Linked DNA regions of Homo sapiens: regions 1, 2, 4, 5 and 6 are each reported to be linked to region 3. The links are microRNA targets in miRTarBase. Many come from high-throughput screens and were not tested one by one. Region 3 holds a microRNA gene; each other region holds the end of a gene's coding sequence.
Evidence for each region. The annotated mature microRNA hsa-miR-4723-3p reads CCCUCUCUGGCUCCUCCCCAAA and lies in region 3 at 1,928-1,949, opposite strand. An mRNA with a match to its seed (bases 2 to 7 or 8) in the 3' UTR can be bound and repressed. Matches are read on the target gene's strand: a 7mer-m8 pairs with bases 2 to 8, a 7mer-A1 pairs with bases 2 to 7 and ends in A, and an 8mer does both.

Region 1: the mRNA of ASAH2 is a reported target of hsa-miR-4723-3p. Seed matches in the 3' UTR shown: 7mer-m8 at 4,184-4,190.
Region 2: miRTarBase lists CATSPER4 as a target of hsa-miR-4723-3p. Seed matches in the 3' UTR shown: 8mer at 518-525.
Region 4: miRTarBase lists KCNN3 as a target of hsa-miR-4723-3p. Seed matches in the 3' UTR shown: 7mer-A1 at 3,067-3,073 and 7mer-A1 at 1,151-1,157.
Region 5: the mRNA of ASIC4 is a reported target of hsa-miR-4723-3p. Seed matches in the 3' UTR shown: 7mer-A1 at 1,006-1,012 and 7mer-A1 at 1,283-1,289.
Region 6: miRTarBase lists SMG7 as a target of hsa-miR-4723-3p. Seed matches in the 3' UTR shown: 8mer at 1,079-1,086.

Annotation. Positions count from the first base shown.
Region 1 is chr10:50,182,901-50,187,869 of GRCh38, forward strand. It overlaps ASAH2 (N-acylsphingosine amidohydrolase 2), which reads right to left. Exons shown (of 21, transcript NM_019893.4): 21 at 1,961-4,604. The coding sequence ends at 4,415. Among named protein-coding and RNA genes, the nearest start is that of ASAH2, 66 kb to the right of the region's middle.
Region 2 is chr1:26,202,219-26,207,145 of GRCh38, forward strand. CATSPER4 (cation channel sperm associated 4) reads left to right here. Exons shown (of 10, transcript NM_198137.2): 10 at 271-746. The coding sequence ends at 324. Among named protein-coding and RNA genes, the nearest start is that of CATSPER4, 14 kb to the left of the region's middle. RefSeq lists an enhancer at 1-209.
Region 3 is chr17:28,357,692-28,362,660 of GRCh38, reverse strand. It overlaps MIR4723 (microRNA 4723), which reads right to left and starts at 2,007; the gene lies at 1,927-2,007. It overlaps VMA12 (vacuolar ATPase assembly factor VMA12), which reads right to left. Exons shown (of 6, transcript NM_152464.3): 1 at 4,780-4,969; 2 at 3,672-3,745; 3 at 3,257-3,346; 4 at 2,090-2,132; 5 at 1,814-1,926; 6 at 1-1,504. The coding sequence ends at 1,409. RefSeq lists enhancers at 4,757-4,856, 4,969.
Region 4 is chr1:154,703,865-154,708,833 of GRCh38, forward strand. KCNN3 (potassium calcium-activated channel subfamily N member 3) reads right to left here. Exons shown (of 8, transcript NM_002249.6): 8 at 1-4,408. The coding sequence ends at 4,112. Among named protein-coding and RNA genes, the nearest start is that of ADAR, 98 kb to the left of the region's middle.
Region 5 is chr2:219,537,284-219,542,252 of GRCh38, forward strand. ASIC4 (acid sensing ion channel subunit family member 4) reads left to right here. Exons shown (of 10, transcript NM_018674.6): 8 at 1-38; 9 at 349-453; 10 at 650-1,489. The coding sequence ends at 763. CHPF (chondroitin polymerizing factor) reads right to left here. Exons shown (of 4, transcript NM_024536.6): 2 at 4,333-4,906; 3 at 3,663-3,842; 4 at 1,671-3,359. The coding sequence ends at 2,100. Among named protein-coding and RNA genes, the nearest start is that of CHPF, 4.0 kb to the right of the region's middle. RefSeq lists enhancers at 381-935, 936-1,491.
Region 6 is chr1:183,551,084-183,556,052 of GRCh38, forward strand. It overlaps SMG7 (SMG7 nonsense mediated mRNA decay factor), which reads left to right. Exons shown (of 23, transcript NM_001375584.1): 22 at 1-107; 23 at 735-3,108. The coding sequence ends at 848. NCF2 (neutrophil cytosolic factor 2) reads right to left here. Exons shown (of 15, transcript NM_000433.4): 15 at 4,479-4,969. Among named protein-coding and RNA genes, the nearest start is that of NCF2, 37 kb to the right of the region's middle.

The DNA of each region.
Region 1 (4,969 bases), not on the chromosome of region 3:
CTATTTATGAAGGTAAAGTTTGGTGCTGCCTCACTGTCAACTCTTTCCTTATACTCTAACTATAGTCTTGATAAAGTACTCAATATTCCCTCTACATGGAATAGTCTATTTGCCCAGTACACAAACACAAACACACACTAATACACACATACATGCACACACCATTGCCTTTCTTCTAGCTAATTTCTACATGTCTTTTAAGTCTTAGCTTATATGTTATTTCTTCCAGGAAACTTACTGAAACATCCCCAAGACCATATTAGGTGCCCTCTCTAATTCCCTGAACAATAACAATATGGGTCACTCTGTACAGTAATTACCTGTTCATCTGTTTGCTTTGTTCGTTAAACGCTAAGTTCCTTTTGGCAGGGAATAGCTTTGCCTTCATTATTGTTTCATTCTTAGGATTTAGCATAATTTCTGCCATAAAGTATATAGGTGCTTGATATAAATCTGTTAAAGTAACGTATACATTTTGCAATACAGAAAGCAATTTTTTTCGTCATTATTCCAATGTGTGTTCTTTTCCAAAATATATTTTCTAGAGTAAAACGAGTTCTAATTATTTCAAAGAGCAGTTAATTTGGATATGCAGATATTATTGCTTGCCCACTGTGGTAACCTTTAGGGCTGCTTGCAAATATCCTGGTTCTGTCACCTGCCCAGTGAAAAATGCACAGTAATGTGGAAGCTTCACGAACTATTGCATGATTCTCCCTGTCCCTTCCCCCTAATCATGGAAGCACCTGTTCCTGTTCCCTCACAATGGAAGAATGTTTAGAATGGAAGTCTCTGTCAGCCTGTGAACTCAAATGAGATGTGGAACAGATCCTTCAGCTAACCCCAATGGACAGGTCATGAGATCAAGAAATAAATCTCTAATGTTGTAGCATAACTAATCTGTCTTGACTAACATAATTTTATGACAGCTACTTCGGCTATCTCTTCTTTCTTACTATCAGAACTTGCCTCACTCTCTAGAAGCACAAAATACTAAATATTCTTTTTTCCAGCTTCCCTTGCAGGTAAGAGTAGCTGTGTGGCACAGTTCTGAACAAAGAAATAGAAGGAAAATTCAACTTGTGTTCTTACTATTTTCCACCTTCTAAAAGGGGATTATAAAGAGAACTCTCTCCTCCCATTTTGCTGCTGCATTCAATTATATGTAGACTTGAGGTAGCGATCTTTTAGCTAAGAGGATAAGCCTAAGAATTAAGTCAATATATTAAGAAGAGCCACTGAGTGGCTGCACCAAACCTGAATTTATCACTTCAAGACTTACTGCTATGTGAGGTTATAAATGTCTTTAGTGTTTGGATGGATGTTGATCAGGAATATTTTCTGAGTTACAGCTGAATGCATACTAACAAATTGCATAAGGAATGTGCAAATTTCCCTCTCCGATACCCTATCACTCTAAAATTTTGGAAGCCAATATAAACCAGCAAGTCAGGTTGGATACCCAGGAAGCAAGAGCATCATTTGGAAGAACTAAACACATGAGAAGTTCATCTAGTGATGAAACCTTTTGGCTAAAGATAGAATCCATGCGCTAATCTTAGAAAAAGACAGTAAGCTTGCTTACATTGGAGGAGAAGCATAAGAGGGCACATTAGAAAAGGACATTCATAAGTAAATTCATTCTTGGTCTTTTTGTTCAGAATTAGCGCATGAAACAATTTCATAGTTAGCTACCTGCCTAGGAAATTTTTTTGCCCAACTAGTAAAAAAGAGAAAGAAAATAAAAGAATTGTCAACCATACATGTGTTTTACCAGCAGTACATCTTCAGAAGTTAGAAAGGAACTGATAAAGAAGTGGTTCCCTTGTGCTTCAGTGGTTATTTACAAGTCATTTGTATCACTTTCCAACCTAACTTACATGTAATCTACCACCTTTTGTTCCACCTCTTTTTTTAAAAAAGTGTTCGTTTGTCTACATTACCTTTCATTAGACAATACTTTTATGAGTGTAATTCTTAATTTATTATTAAATAATCCATTGAATATTGACAATTTTACACAGTACTCATCAAAAAATCTAGACCTGGAAAAGAGATTATTCAGTGCTTTTCAAAGAAGTCAAAAAATCCTTAAAACCAGAGTAGGCAGGGTACAGCAAATAAAATGCAGACATTTTAACATGAGAAACAAAATCTCCAAAATTGTTCTCCTACCTACCCAATCTGCCATATTCCACTTTTTCCACCAATTTCAGGAGTTTCTGCCACATGGTTTGGCTCCAGTGAGCCAGTCCCTGCAGCATCCACAGACATGAATTGGATCTGTGTTTTTATATCAACAGATAAGTTCAATTACTTCATGATATTCTTTTATGCACAGGTAAAGAACTGATATTGATAATCCAGGAATTTGGTTTTATTTTTACACATGAACTGCGAACATAGAACTGCATGCCCTAGAAGAAATGACAGCTGGTGAGAAAATAGGTTTCTGTGCGTTATCTGGAGCCAAGAGTGCTAGGTGCAGTAGGATCAGTAGATGATACAGTGGCCACCTTGGTACAGTTGCCAGTGAGCTATCAGGAATCACAAGTAGATTTGAGGAAAGCTTCAATAGAAGGAATAGAGGTAGTGGAAACTGATTCATGAACCCTTCTGAGTAATAACAAATACTTTAAAAAACCATATCATAAGTTCTAATATAATTTTCTTGTCTGGAATCAGCTACTTTCAGGATCACTTGTTCTTTTAGGCTTCTGAACTTTTACACTGAAGACTGTGGCATCATCAGAAAAAAGATCACAACACTTGGAATCCCTGATTACCTAATCCTCCAGCAGTTAATGCCCAAGGAAACAGCCTCTAGGATACCAATTCATCAAAAAGTGTTCCAGGTTCATTCTAATTCAATAAATTATGTTGAGATTAAGTTATACATAATAGATGTTAATACTACCATTATGAATATTGTTATTATTTTCAAACCTCAAAGTTTATTTTTAAAATACAGATTGATTTTTTTCCCTAAAATGCTAAAGCTTTTACATACATACAAAAGTATGACCTGGGGTTTGGAAATTTGCTTTGCAGTCTGGGAGGTTGTAGTTAACTTAAAGAATTTTAAATGCAATTAGTACTTTCAGACAATCGATGTCAGACTGTCATATCTTATTCTTTGGGGTATGAAGCAAGGTATTTTACAATGCCCAAAAATAACTTTCAAAATAGTATTTAGCAAACTGTCTGGAGCCTCTTTCCCCCCAAATTAGAGTATCCAACACAGATGATACACAAGATATAACTTGAAGATTACTGATTTTTTAAATGCTTCCCCAGAATTTACATATTAAATCGATTATTTTCTCCTTCATAATAGTTACCTTTTGACACTTACACATTCACCCCAAGTACAAATTCACTAATTATCAAGGCCTAGGCACTATTATAATTCTGGGCATATAAATCTTAAATATTCTATGATTGAATGGGTCCATGAGTGAGTGAGTGAGCAAATGGTAAAAGAACAGATAAATTAATTTAGAACCTCTGCTTTGAGGAGTGCTTTCCCAGCCAGTAATATTTTTAATATCTACACTAATGGCAAAACTTTCTGGTTTGGGGTGAATTTGATTAATGAAAAGAGTCAAAAAATCATTTGGAATAAGTCTTGGGAGTAAGAGACACAATCCAGTGGGATAAGGACACTTAGGAAAACACAAGGCATGATCAAAATATTGGAAGTCTGACTTTCTCATAATTGTGTCCTGAAGGCAATTCCAGAAATGATTTGAGCATCCACAGCGGCTCTGAACTAGGCATGTTAACTCCAGAATGACTGCTTAGAAAGACTATGTTATTTTGAATGAAGGAAAACTGACATGCTGATTTTCTGTTTCTCTAATTAGGCTCATACATTCATGGTCAAGGTTTATATCATATTTTGTAAATGTGATTAGAAGAAAAGACCATTTTTCTTATATGTAAGATGAAGGGTAAGACTAGATGATTTCTATAAATTTTCCCAGTACTAATATTCAGTAATTCTATATATAAATAAATAATTTAAACATTGTTCACATTAGTGAGCCATTCTCACTAATATTTCAGAGGTTTTATATTGAAGGGACTCTCCTTTAAACAACCCCAAGACTTCAAGGGAAATCATGCTTTAGGCTGTAGACCACAAGATATATGGCTGCTGGAGCAAGATATATGGGACAAACCTCTCTCTCTCTCTCTCTCTCTCTCTCTCTCTCTCACACACACACACACACACACACACACACACACACACACACACACCCCTCCACCCCATTAGCAGTAAACTATCTGTCCCCAAACAGGGACGATTATAGAAGTCAACATGGTAGTTCACTAGTTCACATTCATTTGAAATCACTTATATAATGTGTAGAGAGTAAAGCTGTTCTTTAAATGATCTATCAACTTTTCACTAAATAGTTACAACTTCAAAAGCCGGGGAAGTGCCTTCAAATGAAAGTATGACAGCAGGCTTCAGAATGTCCTGCTTCCGATTGTGTCCAAAATATCTTATTCTGTAGATTCCAGGCTGGGCAGTGTCTGGAATATGCCATTCCACTGTTGCATTACTCAGACCCAGGAGTCCCTTGTGCCAATAAAAACTGTTGATAAAAAACAAACAAGCAAGCAAAACTCAATTTTACTCTTAAAAATGTTTAATTAGAAAAATACATGATTATTCATTTAATGAATATTCAGAGAATACCTACAATGAGCAAGGCACTATCAAGACATTGAAGATACAGCAATGAACAAAACAGACAAAAACGTCTATTTTCTAGAAGAGAAACTTTAAAGAACAGCAATTTGTAGAAACAGCTTTACTTGTTCTACCTTTCTACCTACCTAAATTATACTCACCCCAGGAAACCTTACCTGATAGCCACAAGATGTCTCTCCTGCTGTAGAATTGCAAAGCACTCTTTTAGCCCTTATCTGACACTTATTTTCACATCTAGATTCATTT
Region 2 (4,927 bases), not on the chromosome of region 3:
ACAAAACCAGCTGTCTCCTGAACTCCTGGAGAGAAAAAGGCACACACCCACGTTACTTAGTTTCTTTTTCTGCCCCTCCACACCATCAGCCTGGGATATACCCTGGGCTCCCAAACTCAGAGGGGGTACTAGGTAGGCTCAAGTTAGACCTATGAAGCACTTCTCTGGGAGGCCTGGCTGGGGAAGCTGGTGAGACTGGAGGAGGTGAGTAACGGAGGCTGCCATATCGGGGGGAGTGGGGGATTAACAAGAAGACCTCTTGGTTTGCAGGTTCATGACTCTAGCTCACAAATACTCCTTAAAAAACACAAGAGCAGCCACTGAGAGGCCAGGATGGGAGCCAAGGGGCCTGCACACACACACCCAGCCGCTGCGTCTTCCTGTGTCCTTAGTGTGGCTTGGCAGAGCCTGGCCAGAGCCCATCCTCTCCCTTATACCTGGGCAGAGGCCAGGGGCTGTGAAGGTGGCAGCACCTGCAGGTCTGGTGCCTGTGAGCCCCAGGTCCGGTGGAGCAAGGAGAGAGGAGGATGCTGGATGATGAGAGTGGGAACCCTAGCAGCAAGGATGAGCACAGAAGGGGGTGCTGGCCAACGCAGCCAGGATTTGACCTAAGGATGGGGATCCCTGGCCCCCTGCTCTTGCCCAGAGCTGGTGGGGGGCCTCAGTGGGCCCCAGAACCAAGAAGAGAAAGGCAAGGCCAGTGGGGCCAGACATCTGTGTGTTGACAATAAAGTTTTGTGTTGGAATCAATGTCTCTGACTGGTGGATCTCCAACTCCTTGGGGCACTTGCCTGGGTCTAATAGGAAAGACAGATCTTGCCCCTCAAAATCCCGTTTGTCTGGTGGGAGAGTCACAGGCTGCCCTGAAGAGCATCCAGTCTAATGGGAGGGAGAATTGCACCCCTAAAAATTTCTGACTTAATGGTAGAGATATAACCCTTGCCCTCAGGGTCCTAAGCTTTGTGGAGGAAAGTCTGGTCCTCATGGGAGGGAGCCCCTGTCTGATGAAGGAGATGGCCCTACCTGCTCTCTCCCTGTCTGAAGATGGAGACTGGTCCTCACTCTGGGGAGCCCTTGTCTGATGGGATCACCAATGACCAAGTCACACAAGTACAGGCACCTCCATCCTAGGGCAATGGAGACTGACTACTTAAAATGTGGGTCCTGGCAGCTTCCTAGAGGAGAGGAAGATTTTGCGGGTCAGATGAATGAAGTCTGGTGGGGAACTTAGGACCTGTGAAGCCTATTTGGGATCTTCATACTCAAGGCCACTGAGAGCCTCAGCAGGTTCCTGAGCTATGCAATCTGGGGAGAGTCAGAAAATTGTGGCAGTTATGGGCAATAGAAAGAGCTGCCTTGGAGGACAGGAAACCTCGGTTCTGGTCCTTCAGTGAGTCACTTGGCCTTGTTTTCCCCATCTGTGCGATGGAGAGAGGGTGAGATTGATCTCCATCTCTAAAATCAAATAATCCCCTCTTATCCCAGGAAGTGGAAGACCCATGGGATCAGCTATGTCCCTGGGATGCAGGTGTCAGGGGATAGCCTGGAAGGCCTGGACATCTGCCCTGTTGTTCAGCGAAGCCTGACACTTAGGGGCCGTGGCGATATTCACCAGTTGGAATGGGAGTCCCCAGAGGTCCACTGATTGCAGCTGATGGGAAACCCCACCCCCCATCGTCCTCCCATCAGCATTGGTTCCAACTCTGAAAAGCCCCCTGGGGTCTGTTGGGAAGGAGTCTGGCCCCTGGGGATGGATGGTGCACTCAGTAGGCAGATGAGAGGCAGCAACAGAGCCAGCAGTGCCTTACTGTCTCGGAGCCGTTAATCTATTCCCCTGTTTGAGCCAGGACTTCTTCCCAGCACCCTCCAGGACCATCAGCAGCACAGAGAAGGGCACCCAGCGGATTTTGCTGCTGCTGTTGCTACTTACTGGAGATGGCGCCCTCAACCTGCCTGGTGAGTATCTACATACTCTTTCCACCCATCTTTCTCTGGGGGCCCTCTCAGCCCCTCTTCTTGTTGGCCAGAGAGGGAAGAAGGTGGCAGATCAGATGGTGTCTTCAGGAGGAGCTAACAGTTTGAGTATGGCTATCCTTCACCCCTAACTGTCTGAAAGGCTTGGAGCATCAGTGAGCTTACAGTCAGGAGCACAGCAGGGTGACCTCCATGGAGCTCCTGGCCTTGACCATCTATCTCCTCCAGGATGCTATTTTGTCTATCTACTCCCTTCATCTTGTTTGTCATCTCATCTGTCTCTGCCTTTGTCTTTCCCATCCGGGCCAACCTAACAGCCTGGAGTTTCAGCAGGCTAGTTCCTTCCCAAACTGGCCTGGAACTGAGGGCCCAGGAAGTCATACTCTCCCCTTCCCCTTCCCCTTCCCTACTCCAGCAAAGAGCAACTACCACTCCCCATGCCTTACTGAGCCTGAGTTAGGAGTGGGGCCCCGGATTCTGAGCTCCTAGGACAGTGCGGGGGAAGATATTGGGAGGTGGCTGGAAATTGTGTGTCTCATCACCCCTATGGTCTCACCTGATGGGTTTCCCATCAGCTACAATCAGTGGACCTCTGGGGACTCCCTATGAGTCCATAACTTTTACCAGGGACAGGAGCATCCTTGGCAAACTGTCCAGGAAGCAGACACCAATTCTGATGACAGGAGCAGCAGGGGATAATCATTCCCAATAGCAGTTCTACTCATTGAGTACCTACTAGGTGCTAAGCATGGTGCTGAGTGCTTCACACGCAGTATTTCATCCTCATGACCATCAGTGAAGTGGGTATGAAGAGGATATGTCCCCACGGGGGACTTATCCTCCATCACAGAACTGAGATCCTAACCCAGGTCTGACTTCAGAGCCCAGGTCACACTTCTCAAGGGAGCTTCTGTGGGCAGGAAACCTCAATATCATAAAGATGTCAATCCTCACTGAACCTATAATTGCAGGGCACCTCCAATCACAATTCCAACAGGTTGCTTGTAGAAATTGTTAAGCTGATCCTAACATATGTAAGGAAGAACAAAAGGCCAAGAATAGTCAAGATAATTTTTTTTTTTTTTTGAGACGGAGTTTTGCTCTTGTTGCCCAGGCTGGAGTGCAATGGCACGATCTTGGCTCACTGCAACCTCCACCTCCCAGATTCAAGCAATTCTTCTGCCTCAGCCTTCCGAGTAGGTGGGAGTACAGGCATGCGCCACCAAGCCCAGCTAATTTTTTGTATTTAGTAGAGATGGGGTTTCACCATGTTGGTCAGGCTGGTCTCGAACTCCTGACCTCAAGTGATCTGCCCACCTCGGCTTCCCAAAGTGCTGGGATTACAGGTGAGAGCCACTGCGCCCGGCCTGTCAAGATAATTTTGAAGCACAAGATGGGTGACTCACCCGACCAAATATTGAGGCTTACTATAAAGTAACAGTAAGATAATGTGGTGTTGGTTGGGGGAAAGATGGACTTTTCCATAAGGGGGCAGGGATAACTGATTAACTATATGGAAAAAACATAAAGTCAGATTCAGTGGAAACATCCCTCCCTGCAAATAAAAACTTGAGACCCCTATAGCAAGACATATAGGTTCAGTGCAAACTAGATCTTTGTTGCAAATGGACCCCACAGATGACTAGAGTTTACAATGCTCCTCCACACTGAGCCAAGTCCCTCACTAGGCTAAGAGGAACATGGAGGCCCAGAGAGAGGTGAGACCTTCCCCAGCGTCACCCAGCAAGCCAGTAATAGAGCCAGGTGTAGAGCGTAGGTCCCCCTACCCTTTCCAAGCATCCTTGCCAATTCCCCTGGCCTGTTGCAATCCCTTAGCTCTGCACAGGGCCAGAAGAAAGTGGGTGTGGGACTGGGCAAGGTGGCTCATGCCTACAATCCCAGCACTTTTAGAGGCCAAGGCAGGAGGATTGCTTGAGGCCAAGAGTTTGAGACCATCCTGGGTAATATAGTGAGACCTCATCTCTACAAAAAATAAAAAGAAGGCTGGGTGCAGTGGTTCACGCCTGTAATCCCAGCACTTTGGGAGGCTGAGGGGGGCAGGTCATGAGGTCAAGAGATCAAGACCATCCTGGCCAACATGGAGAAACCCTGTCTCTACTAAAAAAATAAAAAATAAATTAGCTGGGCGTGGTGGCACGCGCCTGTAGTCCCAGCTACTCAGGAGGCTGAGGCAAGAGAATCACTTGAACCCGGGAGGTGGAGGTTTTAGTGAACTGAGATTGTGCCACTTTACTCCAGCCTGGCAACAGAGTGAGAATCTGTCTTTAAAAAGAAAGAAAGAAAGAAAGAAAGAAAGAAAAGAAAAAAATCAGCTGGGCGTGGTGGCATGCGCCTATAGTCCCAGCTACTCGGGAGGCTAAGGCAGGAGAATCACTTGAACCCAGGAGGTGGAGGTTGCAGTGAGCTGAGATTGTGCCACTGCACTCCAGCCTGGTGACAGAGTGAGGAAAAAAAAAATCAACTGGGTGTGGTGCAATGTGTGTGCAATGTGGTGCGCCTGTAGTCCCAGCTACTCGGGAGGCTGAGGCAGGAGAATTGTTTGAACCCAGAAGGCAGAGGTTGCAGTGAGCTGAGATCACGCCACTGCACTCCAGCCTGGTGACAGAGTGAGACTCCATCTCAAATAAATAAATAAATAATAAAAAGAAAAATGTTAGTCGAGTGTGGTGGTGCGCACTTGTAGTCCCAGCTACTCAGGAGGCTGAGGCAAGAGGATCACTTGAGCCCAGGAGTTTGAGGCTGCAGTGAGCCATGATTGCACCACGGCACTACAGCCTGGGCAACTGAGACTCTGTCTCTAAAAAAAAAGTGAGGGTGTGGATGGTGCCAGAAAAGAAGGGTTGGTGCATCTTCAGAATTAGGCGATGGGAAGGACAAAGAATGAGCCTGCCACCTGGGCTGGGTCACTTCCAGTTTTTTTTCTTTTCTTTTC
Region 3 (4,969 bases):
ATGTCAGCTAATTTCTGCGTTTTTTTGTAGAGATGGGCTTTTGCCATGTTGCCCAGGCTGGTCTCAAACTCCTGAACTCAAGCATCCTCCCACCTTGGTCTCCCAAAGTGCTGGGATTACAGGCATGTACCACCACGCCTGGCTAATTTTTTTGTATTTTTAGTAAAGATGGGGTTTCGCTATATTGGCCATGCTGGTCTTAAACTCCCAACCTCAAGTGATCCGCCTGCCTCAGCCTCCCAAAATGCTACGATTACAGGTGTGAGCCACCTCACCTGGCCCAGTGTAGCTTTTTAACACAAATTTTATATAGCTCAGGTTACTGGAAACACTGTAAAATGCCACCTACTTTTTCTTTTCACAGCTGACACTTCTCCCAACTAACAGAAACTGGCAAACATTGTAGAGGAAGTGTCCACTGAGTGAATGAGTATATAATTTATGAAAACAGAAAAGTGCTTTGGAAAAAAAAAAAAAGACAACAGGAGTACATACAGTGAACCAAAAAGAGTGTACCAGGAGGAGCAGACCCTGAACAGTTAGAACTATGGAAATCGCTATGCTTTGTGTTGTCACAGGAGTTAAAATAGGAATACCCTGCATACAATAAATATTTATTGGATAAATAACTAAGCCTGATACCCTTTTCAATGCGTTATACAGACTCTATCATCACACCACTAATCTAAGTTCTCAGAAGTTAAACATTACAAGACTTCAGAACAACATAGGCGTCTTTGGCTCCATTTAACAGAAGAAGGACCATAGTGATCATTTAATCTCTATGAGTCTGTCTTATCTTCTGGAAAAGGGGCCTAACACCATTTCCTTTTGCAAAAAGGTAGCTGCCTTGCTTCCAGTTCTACCATCCTCTAGCAACCCATCTTTCTCTTATTTGATGTCTCTGATCAGCTCCTCTTCCAGCACAAACTGGAGAAAGGGGATCCTTTCTGTTTTCTTGGAGGCTTCTGAACTCAATTACAGGTCTGCATTAAAAATGTATGGAGAAAGCTGGTGATCAGTTTGTACATATGGACAAGTTCAAGGCAGTATGGTCTACTTCTGGGAAGGCCTGGATTCCATTTGCTCCTGATGGAAAAACCCTAGTCCCAGCAGTGTTTAGAATGAACTGGAGAAGGCAGATGGGTACCAGATTCAGGAAGAGGTACTGATAGACCAAGACCAGTTCTTTCTGTTTTAAAGATGTGTTATCTCAATCTCCTCCAATGCTCCCTTTGGAAATTCACAGAAGATTAGGGCTCCCCACAGAAACAGCAGCTGGCCTGGGCTGGTCTTCTGACTAACTGGAGCTGAATACAAAAAGTCTGATGGGTTGACTGAGTCGGTGACTGCCAATTGGAGCCTGAAGCCCCCAAAGTCTTCTCTAGACTTGATGATGAAGCACCAGTTACAGTTCTCCCAGCTCGCCTTCCATTGCCCGCACCATGACATACAGCTCGGCCAGACCCACCACAGAGGCGACGATCAATGCAGCTAGCACCCGCTGGAGATGGGGAGAACCAGGCTTAAGGGATGCAGGCCAACAACCAGCTCTGTACCCCAGCAACTTTAATGAGGATGGAGAGCCCCCCAACCACCCTCTAAGTTGGGGGAGGGGAAGAAAAGAGAATGTGGCTTCTCCTGGGGTTATTACCTAACCTCCCGTGACTGCTGGAAAGCTCTAATGCTCCCCTTATTAATGGCATAAATATCTGTTCAATACCTAACCTGTGCAAGGCACTTTCACATACGTCCTCCCTTACCCACTAACACCCCCACCAGGGGCACCCTGCCCTGCCCAGTGCCTACTCACCGAGGCCATTTCTGTGAAGATATATTGGCTTCCAAGGTAAGTGCAGACGAAGGCAGCAACCACCGTGACAATGAAATTGAAGATGGTGATGACCAGAGCCTTCAATGATCTCACTTTGGGGAGGAGCCAGAGAGGGCACCTTTAGTTCAACATTCTCTAGGAGGTGCTCTTATCTCATGGCTCCCCCACCAACTGGGTTTCAGTCAAACAACAAGCCTGAGTGTCATGACCCATCTCAGGAAAAGGTTTTAGAAGCCTGATCTCCTAGTACCTCACCTTGCTTTCCCAGGTCGCTGAGAGTCCCACCATGTCTTGTATCCTGGGAAAAAGAAAAAGAAGATGATTCAGAATAGAAGCAGCTCAGAGAGCATCCATTGACAGTCTGGCTCAGCCCTCTCTATTCCCCAACATATTAACTCTGCCCTCCCCATGGATTCTTTTGTCTGGAACCATTTTGACTCTTTTCTGGACTACAGAGCAGGCATTTCGGAGAGAGGACATAGGCTGCCAGTACCCATCTACTCTCCTGTTCCAGGGTAGGAGCATGCCATAGAGTAGTAGGGAGCCCTGTCAGAAGAAATGCTCGAATGGCTGGGCACAGTGGCTCACCTTGTAATCCCAGCACTTTGGGAGGCCGAGGCAGGAGGATCACCTTGAGGCTGGGAGTTCAAGACCAGCCTGGCCAACGTGGTCTCTACTAAAAATACAAAAAATTAGCCTGGCGTGGTGGTGCATGCCTGTAATCCCAGCTACTTGGGAGGCTGAGGCATAAGAATCACTTAAACCTGGAAGGCGGAGGCCGCAGTGAGCAGAGATCCTGCCACTGCCCTCCAGCCTGGGTGACAGAGTGAGACTCCATCTCAAAAAAAAAAAAGAAGAAGAAAAAAAGCCTCCAAGATTCATTCCCACTTATTTATTTATTTATTTATTTATTTTGAGATGGAGTCTTGCTCTTGTTGCTCAGGCTGGAGTGCAATGGTGCAGTGTTGGCTCACAGCAGCCTCTGCCTCCGCCTCCTGGGTTCAAGTGATTCTCCTGCCTCAGCCTCTCGAGTAGCTGGGATTACAGGTGCCCGCCACCACGCCAGGCTAAGTTTTGTATTTTTTGTAAAGACGGGGTTTCACCATGTTGGCCAGGCTGGTCACGAACTCCCGACCTCAAGTGATCCACCTACCTCAGCCTCCCAAAGTGCTAGGATTACAGGCATGAGCGCCGTGCCCGGCTAACTCCCACTTCTATGACGTTTAAAACTTGGTCACCATCTCAGCCCAGAGTCTCAGTGAATGAGATGGGAACTGTGTTGTTTGTATGCAGACTTCCTATGGTCCCTGAACAGTATAGAAACCAAGTTTCCATGTTTTTTCTAAACTCTGTATCTTCTTCCACTGCAGGGCCCTACTCTGAGGGGCTACCTAGACCACGTACTGAAGAGCATGTCCTTACCTGACAAGTGACGTTGCGGGTGATCCGTTTATATTCCTCATTGGCCAGCTGTATCTTAATCTTCTCCAGCCGGGCAACTAGTTCTGGGTTCTGAAGCAGAAAAATCAAATGAGAAGAATGATATTCCCAGCTTGTTAGAAAGCACATCACAATCATTGGTTCCAGGGGTAAAGCACTGCTAAAGGTATCAGGAGACCCACATACTAGTCGTAACTCCAGTGCTTTGAAACTGTTTTTTTTTTTTTTGATCTCAATTTTCCAAACAGCTGATGGGGAGGACAATATCTGGCTCCCCCAGATCCCAAAGATTTCAAAAACAATTTTTCAAGCCTAAAAGTTGATTTATAAGTTCAGTGTATCATGGATAAGCCCAACTCAGTCAATAACCACTCTCACAAACATATCCCTTACATACCCGTGGAGGCTTCACAACCTCTGGGAGATAGATTTCACTGCCTTCTAGGAGCTCATGGAGGTATAGTTTGGAATCTGAGAAGAAAAGGTTTCACAAACACAATGATCCACGAGCTGAGGTTGAAGGGTTAAGATCAAGAGGGGTGTAGCCCTTCTTTCTACCAAAATAAAACAGGGCCATCTCTACATTAATCCATTTCCAGGATCATTTTCAATTGAAAAGAATTTTGGATAATTCCATGTAGGTATCTCCCAGTGCTGCGCAGGTGACTTTAGCTGTCAGCTCTCAATTATCCTGCCAGTGTTATAACTAACAAGTAAGCCATTTACTTGTGCCTTTGGGTTAGATCAGTTCTGTGGCCACAACAGCTCTTCCCTAAATAAGTTTAGGTCATAGTGATGCTAAATGCTCAGAGGACACTAATACTAGGCAATCTCTTTCTAAGGTCCTTTCTAGTTCTAATAATTGAGCAGTCTACCCTTTGCACTTCTGGCTGGTCTATGTTACTTCTGGCAAAATACCTTATGTGCTAGTTTGTCCTGTTCCTTCCCTTTACACATAAGGGAACTGAGGCCCAGCGAGGAGAAATGACTCCTTCAAAGGATTAGTGACAGAGCTAGGACTGGAACTCACATGCTACTCTCAGGCCAGATCTTTCAACACAGCTTTTGCCATCCTATATTAAAAAAACAAACAAACAAAACAAAGTATCAGATTTCACCACTCTTGCTTTTGAGGTGGAAAGAAATCCGGATTCCTACAAGCTCACTATGCTAAGCTGATTCCTAAAGTGGAGAAAAAGAAGAGACAAAACCTGTGATATTTGTATTTGGTAAAAACCTAGACTTTCTCAAGGGTGAATTGGGCCTAGGTGTGCCTGGAAGTGAAGAGGGGGCTCTCAAAAGAGCAGAAACTGCACAAGCAAATTTGTCATCCACGAGAAATTCCCATGGGAGTTAAGAAAGTGGGTGGCCCTGGGATTTATGGAGTGACTCTTGACTTGTCTAGATGAGTGCTCCGTAGAAGAAGGGGAATGATGGGAAAAGACCTCAGGAGGGAATCGATCTGGACACAAGGAGGGGACCCCGGACTGGAGACTGGGGCTCACCCCTTTCTCTCAGATGCTGGTGCAGATCCCGGATGAGACGGAAAGAAACCAAGCGTTGGGGGCCACTGGAGCTATCACCGCCCTTGTGCTTCTTCCCCAGCGCGGCCTCAAGCTCGGCCCGCAGCTTTCGGGGTAGCCGCTCTGGCTCCAGCTCCCCGCCGGGGCCCAAAGCACGCACCAATCGCTCGCC
Region 4 (4,969 bases), not on the chromosome of region 3:
CTATTGAAAACATTGTACTTAAGAATATTAATTATTCTCTTCATTTTAAGTACAGAGAAATTGATGTATTAGGTGCTTATATGAATTGGCCAAAGATGTGGATCCAGTCTTAAGATTTTTATTTATTCTGATTTTGTATGACTAGGTTTCTTCTTTTCCATGATTGTTTATTCACAAGGAAATTATAAAAATTTAAGGGGGAAATCCCCCACTATATTAAAATCATTACTTCTTCAATGCTCTTCCTTCTTGGCTTTTAATAATAAAAATAGCTTGTACATGCTCAGCGCTTGGAATTTACTTTTGCGTACATTTTCTATGTCTCCTAATTCACAAGATTGTTGTTCTACCACTGGCCCCTGCTGAGGTCGGTCAGTGGTGACTTGGGGCCTTCCCCCCTTGTTCTTTTGGATTGTATTAAGCACTTCTAGAGACATGATGTCATGAAGTTACGTATTAGGAAGATGGCAAGAGCAGTTCATAGACACTTTATGACAATTTATTGATGATGATCATATATATGTGGCCTTTGATCCAAAGGTGAAGACTTTTATTTGGACTTCAATCTAAGGAGGAGTGAGCCCCTAGTCTGGTGTAATTTACCAACTAATGCTATGTCCTGAAATTCCACTGAGATTAGTGGTCTTAAAGTATCACAGTACATCCCTGACTTTACAGTACATGAAGCTTTAATATGGCTTAAGCAATGGCAGGGGTGGGGGTGGTTCTGTATTTCTAATTCAAGTGTCTAGATATTTTAGGAATATTAGAGTGATTTTACCTGTCACTGAGTTGTCAGAAAGATTATAGTAGGGGATCTGCCATTGGGTCAGTCCTCTAGGAGTGGGCAGATCTTGATCAGTACAGTATTGGAGTGAGGTTACATAATTAATAGTTTTTACATATAGCCGATTTTTTTTTTTTTTTTGAGACGGAGTCTTGCTCGGTCACCCAAGCTGGAGTGCAATGGCACGATCTTGGCTCACTGCAACCTCCACTTCCGGGGTTCAAGTGATTCTCCTGCCGCAGCCTCCCAAGTAGCTGGGACTACAGGTGTCCACCACCAAACCCAGCTAATTTTTGTATTTTTAGTAGAGATGGGGTTTTGCCATGTTGGCCAGGCTGGTCTTGAACTCCTGACCTCAGGTGATCCTCTCGCCTTGCCCAAAGTCCTGGGATTACAGGCATGAGCCACCGCACCTGGCTATATATACCAGATTCTTGAGCAGATAATTAAACCTCCTCCACCACAAAACTTGAAAATAAGGTACAAGAAGGCATGACATGAGAATCCACCTGCCCCTTTTCCCATCTGACTGTGATGCTGAGGTGTGGTGGAATTAGCCAAAAGATGTAGGAAGAAAACTTGGGTGAGCTACACCCAGAATAATTAATACTTAAGTCATCAAGGGTTGATTGTACTTGCAGGAGAACGGGTAACTTTCCCACATAAAGCTGAAATGCTAGTACAGAGAAATAGCCTTCCATTTGCTATTACAGGATCAATGTGCAGGTTTGATCACTTTTTTTTTGAAGCATTTTCTTTTGCCAAGAATAAAAATCATGTATAGCTATTGCACTACCAATAGGTCAATTCATGCTACAAATGTCCATGTGTTTCTAGGATGCCAGTGGCTACTGCTACCAGAAATAACTCCAGTCACTCCCTTGACTAGTGTTGCTAGTTTGGTCTTTAGGGTTTACCTAAGTGAGAGCATCAATGATGGGTTAAAGTCACAGACCACAATGAATAAATCACAGTCTGTGCACACTTTTGGCCAGGAAGAGTGGCAGTGGAATCTTGCATGTCATTTGGTTGAAATTAAGACTAAATCTCTATATGTGCACACACCCACACTCACACCCACACGCACACATATCACAGGGTTATAGCAGAATGAAAACGGTGGGTAGGAATCACCAGTTGAAGGCTGTAGGTTTAAATGATCAGGATTGGCACACTCAGATCAGCCCACCAGTGGTCTTCACTTTGTGAAATGGAACTAATGCCACAAGGAAACTGCATGGTTACTTCATCTGTTTACACATCTGCTTATATGTTCAGCTGAACTGTCACTGAAAACAGGAGCACCATTCTTGGGACATGAAACAAGGAGGAGGGGAAACATTCAGATAATCAACAGTTAATAGAACAAGTAAAAAAATAAGCCAACAGCAGGTGCGGCATCTCTGGTATGCAAAACAACTAATGAAAGTGTTCAAAGGAATTATCAAGGCAGGCCATTAAGACTATAAACCATCAAAAGAGCAGCAGCAATAGCAAGAGAGAAAGAAGAGGGTTAGCAAGAGACTAGATCTTCCTGAAAAAGTGGCCTTGGCTCTACAATTGTCTACCTTGTGCTGTCCTTAGAAGAACAGGCCCAGTGCTACAGAATAAAAATCTCCATGCCAAGCCACTGCCTTCAGAATGGTGATGATGTCTTCTTACAAAGGTAAACCCAAGATGACAACCACAAGCAAAAAAATCACCCTTTTGTTTTACCATCAACAGATGAAATAGTCCATACAGTGCCATTCAATTTCCCACAGGCAGAAACCAAAGACCTCAGAATGAGAAAGTCATGGTTTTCACGTCACAAATGTTACGTGTGGTCAGATTATGGAGCAATGAAAACATTTTTCTGCGCCGCTCATTACACTAAATCTTGATGTTTCTGAAGTCTCTTGGAGTTTGAGATGTATTGGAATAGTTTTTCGCACCAAGATTAACATGGCACAGTAGGAACAGGCTACTGACAAATCCATGTCCACTTACCTTACCCACAAGGTTCCCTAAGGGTTCCCTTCATTCTCACAATATTTCATTTTGAGATGACTTAAGGTCAGGTAGAAGGGACCACATAGGCCACTCTTCATCACTTCTCCTCCTAGCTCAGAGGCTCACAATTGAGGCACTTGGCCCTTTTGCACTACTAACATCTGGGGCTGGAAACCTGTTGCTGGATAAATACAGCTCAGCAAATCCCCAACCATATTTCTATTCACTAAGGTGTTATTGGATTGCTCCTGTTTGTGCATGTCTGCACACACATGCACAATTTCTTGTCCTCTCCCTCCACACTTACAGACATACACCTGGTCATGTGGACCATCGAAACACAACTTGTTTGGATGGAAGAAGAAAACTCTGCAGATGCTGTTATTTTTAGAAGCCTGCTTATCCCTCCTGAATGCCAACAATTTTGGCTTGGCATCCATTTCAAATCAAGCAAGGTGCATATCCAGGACAAAGCAATGTGCATTATGTCTGAAGGGATCCACATCTTCAGTGAAACTCAGAATGTGGCCAGAACTAGCTAACTACCTGAACTGAAAGCACCCCATGTTCAGATTCAGACCAACTCAAAACACATGTAAGGGGTGCCTATTGTATGCAGGGTAAGGTGTCAAGTCCCTTTTTATTTGGATTAAGCTCAAATAAGAAAGGACCTGAAGCGAACGTGGGATGTGTATGTGTGTACATGTACACGTTTGCAAACACACAGGTTTATGTGGGTATTAATATCGAGTGGAAAATCTGGCTTTTTATTTGTCTGTGTCTTTTTTTTTTTTTTTCAGTCTGATTCGAGTATATCTGTTTTGGCAAGTTGTGGGCAGCTCTCTTTTACTTTTGTCACCCAGAGGCTTCCGTAGACAAAAGGAAAGGAGAGAGGTGTGTTCAAAGACCCCCATGGCGAAGAGCCCATCCCCCAAGCCTGACACAACCCTCCCTCCCAGCGGACCCCTCTTCTGGACTGGCTTCGCTGTTGGCTACTTCAGTGCATCTGACCCCCACCCCCCGCGTGAAGACCTGAGATTGAGCGTGGATTTCTGTTCTCCACCAACTCTGCAGCAAGGGCCCTGCCAGAGGCGTCGCTTCCTGTCATCTCCTCTTCCCGCTCCCAAGTAGAGGCACCTAAACAGAGATTAGATTTCTGGTTTCAAGGCATGTCGGACCAAGCACGCTGAATGAACATGAGTTAGTTAATTAGCTCGGTCTCTCTTCTTTCCGTTCCCTGGTCTGAATGTTTCTTGATGGCAAAGCGACCAGGAGAGAGTTGATTTGCATCTTAAGACCTATGGGTAATGCTTCTGGAGTGGGGAGATTTATTTAGCAACTGCTTGAACTTGTGTACGGGGTCGGGAAGGAGGTGGAGCTGACCCCAATGGGGCTATCGGAGATTGGGGTGTGGGTGGTGCCCACTGCCACGCTGACACCCCGGGCCTCGATGATGGCAGACAGGAGCTGCTGCTGCTGCTGGCGCAGGGTGTCGGCGATGAGCAGCGGCAGGGAGTTGAAGCTGGCGGTGAGATGCTCCAGCTTCGACTCCAGGCTGCCAATCTGCTTCTCCAGGTCTTCGCTCCGGTCATTGAGTTCTGTGATTAAGTCATACATGACATTCTGCATCTGTGTGGAGAGAGAGAGGCGAGAGACAGGGAGATGACAGGTCATCACAGAGGAATCTGCAATGGGAGAAATGAAACGCCCTCCACAGTATGACAGGAGCCACTTCCACACCAGCTGATCTGGTCAAGGAAGGATACAGGCTTCTTTCCTGGGGATGGGGATGCTGAAGTGTGCACATTTTTGTTTTCTTATTACAAAAGTAATGAGTATTAATGACAGCATTTTATTAGAAAATATGCACCAAGGGGAAAAAAATGGCCCTTTTTTTTTTCTTAAATAAAGTGAGTCTCTAAACTGTCTCATGTTCTCACAGGGCCACAACCTCTCAGCTCACATGGCTGCTGGCATCTAATGATTCCAGAGAAGACGCTGGTGGGGAATGGACAGTGCAGTGGGTGTATAATTAGTAGGCCAGGGCTCAAGTACACATCTGCAGCTCACTAACAGTGTGCCCTCTGCCAGGCGCCTGGCCTCTCTCAATCTCGGTTGCCTTATAAAATTGGAGTTAATAATAACTGTACACAGTTAGGAGTTATTGCACATCTCCCAACCTCTATTTTA
Region 5 (4,969 bases), not on the chromosome of region 3:
TCCTCACGTTGCTGGAGATCCTCGACTACATCTATGAGGCAAGGGCCCTGGAGAAGGCAGGGTGGGAGTGGGGGCCGTGGGCAAAGCAGAAGGGGGCAGTGCGGGGTGCCTGGTGGAGCTGGCCTGGCTGGAAAGTCAGGTTCAGGGTTCTCTGCCAGGGTCCCCTGACTGGCTGGCAGGCCTGAGGGCTCAGAGTCAGGAGAAGGGGATGGGTGAGGAGGAGGAGGGTGTCCTACTGGGAGTTTGCTGTGGCAGTAAGTCCTGTGGGCAGCTGGGCATGGTAAGGCTCACGCTTCTCCTCAACCAAATTTCCTGAGCCCACTGCTGTCCCCGACCCTGAACCCCAAGGTGTCCTGGGATCGACTGAAGCGGGTATGGAGGCGTCCCAAGACCCCCCTGCGGACCTCCACTGGGGGCATCTCCACTTTGGGGCTTCAGGAGCTGAAGGAACAGGTGAGGACAAGCTCTAAATGCCTGCAGCATGCAGCCACACCTCCCCAGGACTGAATACATCCATTGTTTCTGAACCAGCCTGTGGAGGGGGCCCTGGAGCCTCTGCCCGAGGTGACAAGGAAAGGCTGGCGGTGTGAGCCCTGGGGGCACCACTTGAGCTCTCCCGGTCCCACTCTCTCTTTTCTTTCTCCTGCAGAGTCCCTGCCCGAGCCGGGGCCGAGTGGAGGGTGGGGGGGTCAGCAGTCTGCTCCCCAATCACCACCACCCCCACGGTCCCCCAGGAGGTCTCTTTGAAGATTTTGCTTGCTAGGACGGTGCTGTGACTGAAAGGACCCAGGAGTCTGGGACCCCTCCTGGGATCCCCAGCACATTCTCCTGCTCCTGGGAGAGGCCTGGGGGCGGTGCTCACTGGGAGGGCCAGGACTCAGTTCCTGCTCTCATCCTCCCCTGCCCTGATGTCAGCTGCTTTGCACAAAGGTCCTTCTTGTCCACACCCCTTATCCCCAGGCTGGTGCCCCGGGAGGGCTGGAGACCAGGCCATGGGCCCTCACGGAGAGGAAGGGAAGGAAGGAGAGGGAGGGGGAGGATAGAGCCCATCCCAGCCGGGGAGGGGGAGCCCTCTGTACATTTGTAAATATTTAGGGAAAGCCGGGTGGGGGGAGGGGATACAGATGTAGAAGGTGGGTAGGGCTACAGGGGTGGGTGATTTAGGGACAGCCAGGGTCCCAGCCCCAATGTCAGCAGGATAGGGAGAGCCCCAGGACTCAGGAGTGCTGGGCTGGTCCTACTTCCTGCCCCTCTCCAGGCCCAGCTCCCCTCTTGGCAGGGGGAGAGGATGGCCCAGCAGGCCTGGCCCAGCTCCCAGTTCCCCCTGCACCAGCCCCACCCCTAGAGTCCCTTCTATAGGGAGGGGGCAGGAGACCTTCCAGACTTCGGCTGAGCTTGGAGGGTGGGAAGGGAGCCTTCTCAGTCCTCTCTCCCTCCAGTCTGATTTTATAAAGTGCTGACGAGATTGGGAATAAAGAGGCATAAAGAATTCTCTGTGTGTATGTGTGACCAAGCACGCACTGGGGGCCGGGGTGAGGCTGGGCACATGCATGACTTGGTCCCGGGTGAAAGGAAAGGCAGGCCCCAGCAGGGGCAGGGGAGCCTGTGGTGCTCAGCCAGTCCTCCCTCCCCCACGCCTGCCTACCTTTTCAAAACCTCTGAATCACAAGTCCACACTTGGCCAGTTTATTAAAGGCAGGGAGCTTCGGCAGGGTCCAAAAGGGAGAAGTTGGGAGATGCCCCCTCCTCAGCTCCCTCCTTCCCCAACAACTCTTCTACAGCCCAGCCCCCAGGGCCCAGAGGCAGGGCTGGCGTCAGGCAGACTGTACTGCATAAATACGTGGAGGCCACAGCCCGAATCAGCAGCGTCAGGGGGCAGGGAAACTGGGTTTGGGATGAGAAGTGGGTGGCTCTGGGGGCACGTCCCCCAGTGCTTGTCCAGAGCCCAGGGACCCACAGAGCCAGAGAGGGGACCAGTGGGCCAGCTTGGGGTCTGGCTACGGCCAGCCCTGCCCAGCGAGGCTGGCAGGTGGCTCTGGTTTTGGGGGAGAAGTGGGGTGGGGTGTGGCCATGCCACGGCCCACGGGGACAGGGTGGGGTCAGGTGCTGTTGCCCTGCTCCTGTTCAAAGAGTAGCATGGCCAGCTGGGTTCGGGAGCCGAGGCCCTCAAGCACGCTCTGGAGGCAGCGGTGGTACAGGTCCTCACTGAGCCTCGCGCTGCACGTCTGGGCCCGGTAGCGCTGCAGCAGCGCCGGCTCCACCGCCCGCAGCACATGCAGACTGGAGAAGTGGAGGAACAGCTCGTACACATCCAGGCTCTCCAGCAGCTCCTCTTCTTGTTCTGAGGCTGCCGCCAGGCGCCCACGGGCTGCCACATAGTCGGAGTTGTAGAAGCAGGCCTCGCTGGCTGCCTGGCGATCAAAGCGGCCAGTGTCACGGCCCAGCTCTGGGGGCCCAGGCCCTTGTGGTGGGGCCACAGCTGGGTGGAAGGCTTGGAAATGCATGGGAAAGAAGGCCTGCCAGCCGGAGATGGCATGCATGCGGCAGCGGTTCAGGAAGTCAGGCGTGAGCACCGTGTCTGGCCCGGCCAGCAGGAACAGTGTGTCCAGCGGGTGCTTCTTGGAGAGTAGATCCATGAGGCGCAGTGGTGAGGGTGCGGCTGTCTGCACACTGAGCCATGGCACCCGGGCACCGGGGAAACGCCGCTCCAGCTCTGCCACGTGGGCCTTGACAGGTGCGAAGACATCTGCATGGGCCACGCGCTGGGCCTGGCGCGGCTCATACAGTAGCAGCAGGGTCAGGGCTGCCGCAGCATCACCAGGCTCCAGTGCTGCAGTGGCAAAGGCCTCCAAGAAGCCAGGGGCCAGGTCACGCTCAGCCGCAGCTAGAGGCAGCAGCACAGTGAGACGTGAGGCCTCAGTGACATAGGGCACAGGCAAGATCTCCACGCGGCTCAGCGGCCGGAGCAGCTGCACTCGGCGAGTGAGGGGCCGGCGGCCTCCCTGGGGGGTCAGTGCCTCCAGCTGCAAGTCCAGCGTGTATTCCATACCCCGGGCCGGATCAAAGCGTCGGTAGCCATTCACCAGCTGCTGCTTCTGGAGCCGCAAGGCCGGGTGGTAGCGGCGGTTCAGCTCCTCTAGAGCTGTCCCCAGAACATCGGCCACATCAGCCCGGTCAGCCCCACGCAGTGGGCAGCGGGGTGAGCCATCGGCGCAGGAGAAAGCGTGCTGCTCCGTGAAGTAGTCCCAGCGCAGCACCTCAAAGCGGGAGGCCGGGCGGGATGGTGCTGGAATACCCACGGGCCAAGCAGCTGCCTGGTCCCCATCAACGGCCAGATGGCTGGTATTCTGGATCTCCCACTGGATCAGAGAAACAGGCCATCAGCAAGGGACAGATTACAGGGAGCAGCACACAGCTGGGGGACTGGGTAGGCAGTAGGTGCCACTCAGGATGGGCCCCTCATCCCCTGCCAACCTCTGCCCATACCTATCATTTCCCCAGCATAGACAGCCAAGAGGCTCATCAGAGAATGTAGAAACAGGCAGGGGCTGGGAAGTAGTTTTGTTCTGTGATTCTAGTGCTAACTTGTCATTTCTCTGGGCTCTCTGTGACTTCTCAGATCCTGTCCCCGTCACTCTGCCACCCCCAGACCTAGACCATACCTGTAACTCCTGGATCTCCTGGTACGTGCGTTCCAGTTCAGCTCGGGCGAAAGCTTTGTGCAGCTGGTACATGTGCACAGGGTCACGCACAGGGTGGGCTGTCAGGGCACTTCGGAAATGAGGGTCCCCCTCCTGCACTGGCTCCCCAGGGCTCAGCTCCAGATGGCTATAGTGCACCCCCTGGGGAGAGGAAGGGAAGGGATCTGTGATGAGCTGGCATTGTCTTCCGTTGTCTCATAGTAAGTGTCTCATCTCCTCAGCCTATGACCTGTTGTGGACTTGCAGTCTGAGGGTTTAAGTCTACCTTGACCAGTTGTGAGTCTGTGTGACCTTCAGCATGCCTCCGCTAGCTCATCTGCGAAATGGGCATGCGTCCTGTCTCAGAGCTGTCCAAGGGCTAAAATAATAACTAACATCAAATGCCTATTATGTACAAGGCTCCCTGATTTTTTCTAATCCTTGTAACAACCCCGAGCAATAATTATTTCCATTGGCACAAAGGAAGATACTGAAGCCCAGGATATTTAGTAATTTACTGGGGGTCACAGAGATAGAAAATAAATGTCCGAATTGGCATGGAAAAGCAGACCTGTATCTCCAACATCCCTTTGCCTCTCAGAGGGATTTGAACATGACAAGGAGGTATCAGTGGGATAGCTTATCATCCCACCTCGTGGTCACCAGTGCAGCCCACCCCGGTGGCATCGAGAATGCAGCGACCCAGCCACTCGTCAGGGCGCGCACTGACGATGTCGTTGCGGCAGCCTTCCAGGTGGGGGCGCAGTTGTTGCAGCAGCATGCGCGACAGCAGCACCCCAAAGCCTCCGTGGCAGTAGCGGCCGGGGGTGGGCTCTCCGCCGATGAAGTCCTGGGGCCGGCCCAGGTACAGGTGGGCGGCGGAGGCCAGGCTGAGGTGGCCAGTTAGGCGTGCCAGGCCGTGCGCCTCGGTGTAGGTGGTGTCAGGCACCAGGAAGAACCAGTCAAAGTCGTCGCCGTGCTGCTCCAGCAGGTGGCGCAGCGCCAGGTGCAGGTGTCCAATGGGTCGCTCCTCGCCTAGCGTCACCACTGCCATGCCAGGTGGGGCCCGGCGGCCCCGTGCGCCCGTCAGGAACACCACACGCTCCAGCCGGTGCCCCAGCGTGCGGTTCACGGCCACGCCCAGCGTGGGCAGCGTGGTCTGAGAGGTCAGCACCGCCACCAGCAGCCTCTGCCTGATGCCCAGCTCCGTGCTGATGTAGCGGGTCCTAGGGGAGGAGATGGCACAAGCTTATCAAAAGGACAACGGGGCGGGGGGTGGGGGGGAGGTG
Region 6 (4,969 bases), not on the chromosome of region 3:
CATCCTCTGAGAGCAGTTGGCATCAGGCCAGCACTCCGAGTGGCACCTGGACAGGCCATGGCCCTTCCATGGAGGATTCCTCTGCTGTCCTCATGGAAAGCCTAAAGGTGAGTAGATTTCAGGAACAAGAACCACAAGATTATTACAGCAAAGGTGTCTCTGCTTTCATTCACATAAATAGCTAGACTTCTCAGGCCCTCGGAGTTGACTGATACATAGCACATATATAACAAAGTCCTAGAAACATGGTCTGCCTTACAAGATTCTTGAGTGATAATTTTTAATTTCTGAATTCACTAGTGGTAAAGCAGTATCTTCAGGAGGACAAAAACAAAGGTTTTAGTTTCATTCTAAGGTTAAGAAAATTCTGATTCATTTTGGAATGTTTGATTTAAGCCTTTTCTGACAAAATAAGAGTATCTAATTTTAGAAATGTTTTATTTGCCTGAAAACTTTATAGTAAATGCCCTGTGTGGTACCACATACAGCTGAGTTTCAGTAAAAAGACTTGACATAAAATGTGATTTCACTTCTTCTGGTTTAAAATAGTCTTAATGGAAACTAACTAGCTTTAAGAGTCTTATAATGACTTTTTCTAATAGCTGGATTTTTATGGGGAGTGGGGTTGGGTTTTGGGGCCATATATATGCCTTTATATTTGGCTGGGATTGAAAAATCCCTTTCAGACAACTTGGCATTTGACCTCTGCTGACAAGATCTGGACTGTTTTTCAGTCTATCTGGTCCAGTTCCATGATGCATCCTGGACCTTCTGCTCTGGAGCAGCTGTTAATGCAGCAGAAGCAGAAACAGCAACGGGGACAAGGCACCATGAACCCTCCACACTGAGGCCAAAGTGGCAACCTGGGAATGAAGGCTCCATAAACCATGGCATGTTGGGTTTGCAGGACTGGCCCACACAGTCCCCTGCAGGTGGCAGCCCTCTTTTCTGTTTCTCGCTGTCAAGAGGGTGTAAGTATTCCACCAGCCCGCTGAGTGTGCACGAAATGTTCGCAGTGCAACAAAAAGAAAAATCCATCAGGAACTCTCCGTCCCCCCGGGGCCCTCCGGAGGGAGAGAGAGAGGAACTGCTGTTTATCTCACTCAGTTACTTGGTATCACCGCCTCTCACCTTCTCCATCGTGCATGTCCCCAGCCACATGGGAAGTGAAAGCTGAGAAGGGAAGGCAGATGGGAGAAGCCAATGGGAACTTCTCAGTCCTTTTTTCCTCTTTGGGGAATAAAATAGGAATCCATTAATGATTGCTTTGCTGACTGAGAATGTAGTTGAAATTATTCTTAAACATCTTTTATTATTATTACTCTCAGTAGTAAAATATCACACTGAATTCTTCCATACACAGGTGTGCTTCTAGTCAGTGTGTAGCAAGGAAAGCCCCGTTCACTGCTCCTGTGAGAGGTTGGTGGTGACAGGATGGGGAACCGACCTCTTCAGCCAGTGGAAATGTTCCATAAGGGAGAGTTCAAGGCCTGTCAGAAGGCTCTGGTAGGCCTTCCTCTGGCCAGGAGACTCCAGCAGGGAATGCCCTTCACTCTGTAGGTGCTCGAGCCCCAATCGAGGATACAGTGTGGGTGGTGGTGCTGGGCTGGACTAGCAGGTAGACTGCTGTAGGATTTCAAATTACGTTTTTGATTCCTGTACATTTTACAGTCGCACAGCAAGCAGTCTCACAGAAGGCAGGCTAGTCCATTCACAGCCTGACACGTTCTAATAGGTAGAAGCTTTCAGTGTGGTTATTTTTTCTTTGGTTGGTTTTTGTGCCCCCATTCTACTTCCCACCCTCCTGCCCCATCTCCATCCCTTCTTTTACCCAATGCTGTATGCTAGTAATTGTTTTTATTCCTAATGTGTGCAACATCACATCTCCCCAAGAAGCAACAGCATGGGGTCCAGCAGTTGGGGCCCAAAAGACAGTCTGAAGAGGAAGGAAGCAGCAGTATCTGCGTAGCCCACAGAGGGCCCAGGCCCCTGCCCAGCTGCAGTCTCCCAGCCTCCACTTTCAGAGTGAAATTCAAGGCAGCACGGACATGTGCCCATCAGGCACAGAAGAAAACACGACGTCGTCCATTTTGGAAGAGACGAAAGAAAGGAAAATAAACTCTTTGTATGATATTTATTAGGAGGAAAGAGGACTGAAAATGTTCTTGTGTAGAAACAGAAGGACAGCATTTCTGTTAGTCATTTCCTGGAAAAGTAATATTTTAAGGGGAAATTATGGAAACAATCTAATTGTTCAATTGCTGTGCTAGTGGTAGGGTTTATTTTCTGGGAGGTCTCTCCTTTGTGTGTCTGTATGTTTGTGTACACACACGTGCCCATCTGCTGTCCCAGAGGGGAGGGGTTGTGTGTGCGAGTGTATGGAGTTAGTGTGGAACTTAAGAGCTGGAAGACAGCTGTAGAGCAAAGCACATCCAGGAGCCCCAGTTGTCACTGCAGTCTGGGCAACCCCAGCAATGAAAAGGGGTGAGATAACGCTCATTGCTCTTCAGAGAGAGTGGTTGGAGCCCCCCCCGCCCCGTATGCTTACATTATTGCTCTTTTAGTTTGACATGGTGTTTGGGTTTTGTTTTTTTGAAAGGTCTGAAAAGGTGAAGCCCCCTACCCAATGGCAATATGAAACCTTTTGTGCTTCTCTTCAGCCCCTTCCCTGTGTCCACCTTTCTCTCCTCTTCCCAAGCCTTTTTCCTACTACCTTTACCCAGTTTGTGTGTTTGAGCTCTGCATTCAGGCAGCTGCAACATTCCAGTGTTTGAACTGTCACTGATTCTTGCGCCCTAGACAAGCTAACCAGGTTTACCATCTCACTCCCAGTAATACCCAGCTCCTATCTAAAGCCCCATTCTGCATGAGAATTTGGTGTTTGGAATGTTTTCTGACTCTTGGGGCGGGATTCCTCGCCTTATCATCCTCACTGTGGAGTAATGAGGGGGAGGAGAATCTTTATCAGAAACTGGTTTTGTGTAGTAAACTTTCTTTTGTGGTTTTTTGTTTTGTTTTCTGGGTTTTGTTTTTTGTTTTTGTCTGTGCAAGACCTGCAGCTGCTGAAAATCAGCTTTGCCTTTAATTAAACCATGTTCTCTCCAACCAGATCTGTGTATCGATTCTTTCTTTTCTATCCTAAAAGATATAAAAGAAGTATTGAAGAAAATCCAACTTAAAAGGCAAGAATTTCAACTACTCACAGGTCATCCAGGGAAAGGCATAAATGGTCAGAACTTGAATATTTTTCAGGGTTAATTTTGCTTTTAGTAGCATTCCAAACCAATGAATTACGGAAATTATAATTAATTGTAATGGAAAGGCATGAGTAGTAAGAAATCGATTATCAAAATTCTTTTATTTAATAAAAGAATGCCTTATGTTAAGGAATTAAGAGCCCATCATTTTTATTTTTATTCCTATTGTAGCTGTTACTGAGGCAGTTCAGAGAGTTTATCCTTTTGGCCTGTAAAAATTCACTGAATCTGATTAGCAGCAACATTAATTAATTCTTCTTCTTAGCTTTGGGGTTTCTTTTCTTTGAGTTGTGTCCAAAGTTTCCAGTGATTGGTAGCTTGCTGGGTCTTCCAACTGTGTGCTGGAAGCCAGTGGTATAGCTAACCTTAATGCCTGTGTGCTCACCCTGACCGGCTATCCTTTCACCTGCATGTTGATTCAGTCTGCAGTTCACTTCCTTATTCTGCTTTTCACAGGCGCCTGCACACTTGAAAAATTGTTAGCAAAGCTCCACATACGCTACAACAAGAAGTGGGTAGGGAGAGGAACTAAGGCCAGGCCTTAAGGTCTAATAGTTTAGTTAGTTACAGAATCCTTCACCCAAGTTAATCCTGAAAAATTGGACAATTGGGTTAGCCAAATCCATAGCATTCTGTTATGTATATTAGTATAGCATAGTATATGCAGTCATTTACCATATAACAATGTTTTGGTCAACAATGGACTGCATATACAATGATGCTCCCATAAGATTATAATACATTTTTGCTGACCTTCTCTATGTTTGTTTACACTGATGATACTTACTTACCATTGTGGTATAGTTGCCTGCAGAATTCAACATAGTAACATGCTGTACAGGTTTGTAGCCTAGGAGTAGTAGGCTATACCTGGTAACCTAGCTGTGTAGTAGGCTATACCATCTAGTCTTGTGTAAGTGCACTCTAGATGAGTTTGCACAACACGTTTCTCAGATCATGTCTCCATTGTGAAGCAGTGCATAACTGTATTACGAAGTGTCAGCTAACAAGATACTACTTACGAACTAGCTTCATGAACACCGCTGCTTTTCATCACTTAAATGTTGGCGATTGATATATATTCAGTATTGAGTTCTTAACACATGTTCCTCTCTGAGAATGTACAAAGGTATGTAATTCTATTAATTCTCTGTGGAATTGAGTGTTGTAGTCCATGAGAACCTAACTCAGTCTAGGTTCTGTTTAAGCAACAAGACATAATGAAAAAAGAAAACAAACAAGTTTATTTGTATATGCCTTATGAGTAACCTATAAGGTTACTTCAAGCCTTAAGAGCCAATTACAGTAATGGTTCAGAAACAGGAATATTTGTACTTACTCCTTGGGCCTGGACTTGGGTGTCTTGTTTTTGTAAGATGCTAGGTTTTTTTTTATTGTGGTATGACACAGAAAAGTGCACCAAATGTACAGCTTGATGAATGTTTACAGTGTGAACACAGCTGGCTAGCTAGCACTCAGAGCAAGAAACAGGATCAGTACCTGGAAGACTCTCTCGTGCCCTTTCCAGACACTTCCATCCACTTTTCCTCTCCCCTAACTCCTCCATTCACCTGTCCCCATCTCCTCACCCACTGTGCCCCAGGAAATCATCCTGGGTACTCACATCATTGTCTAGTAGGTTAAATTTTAACAGGGAATAAATAGTTAACACTTCCAAACTGTAATGTCTCAGTACAGTATACAGCAGAAGG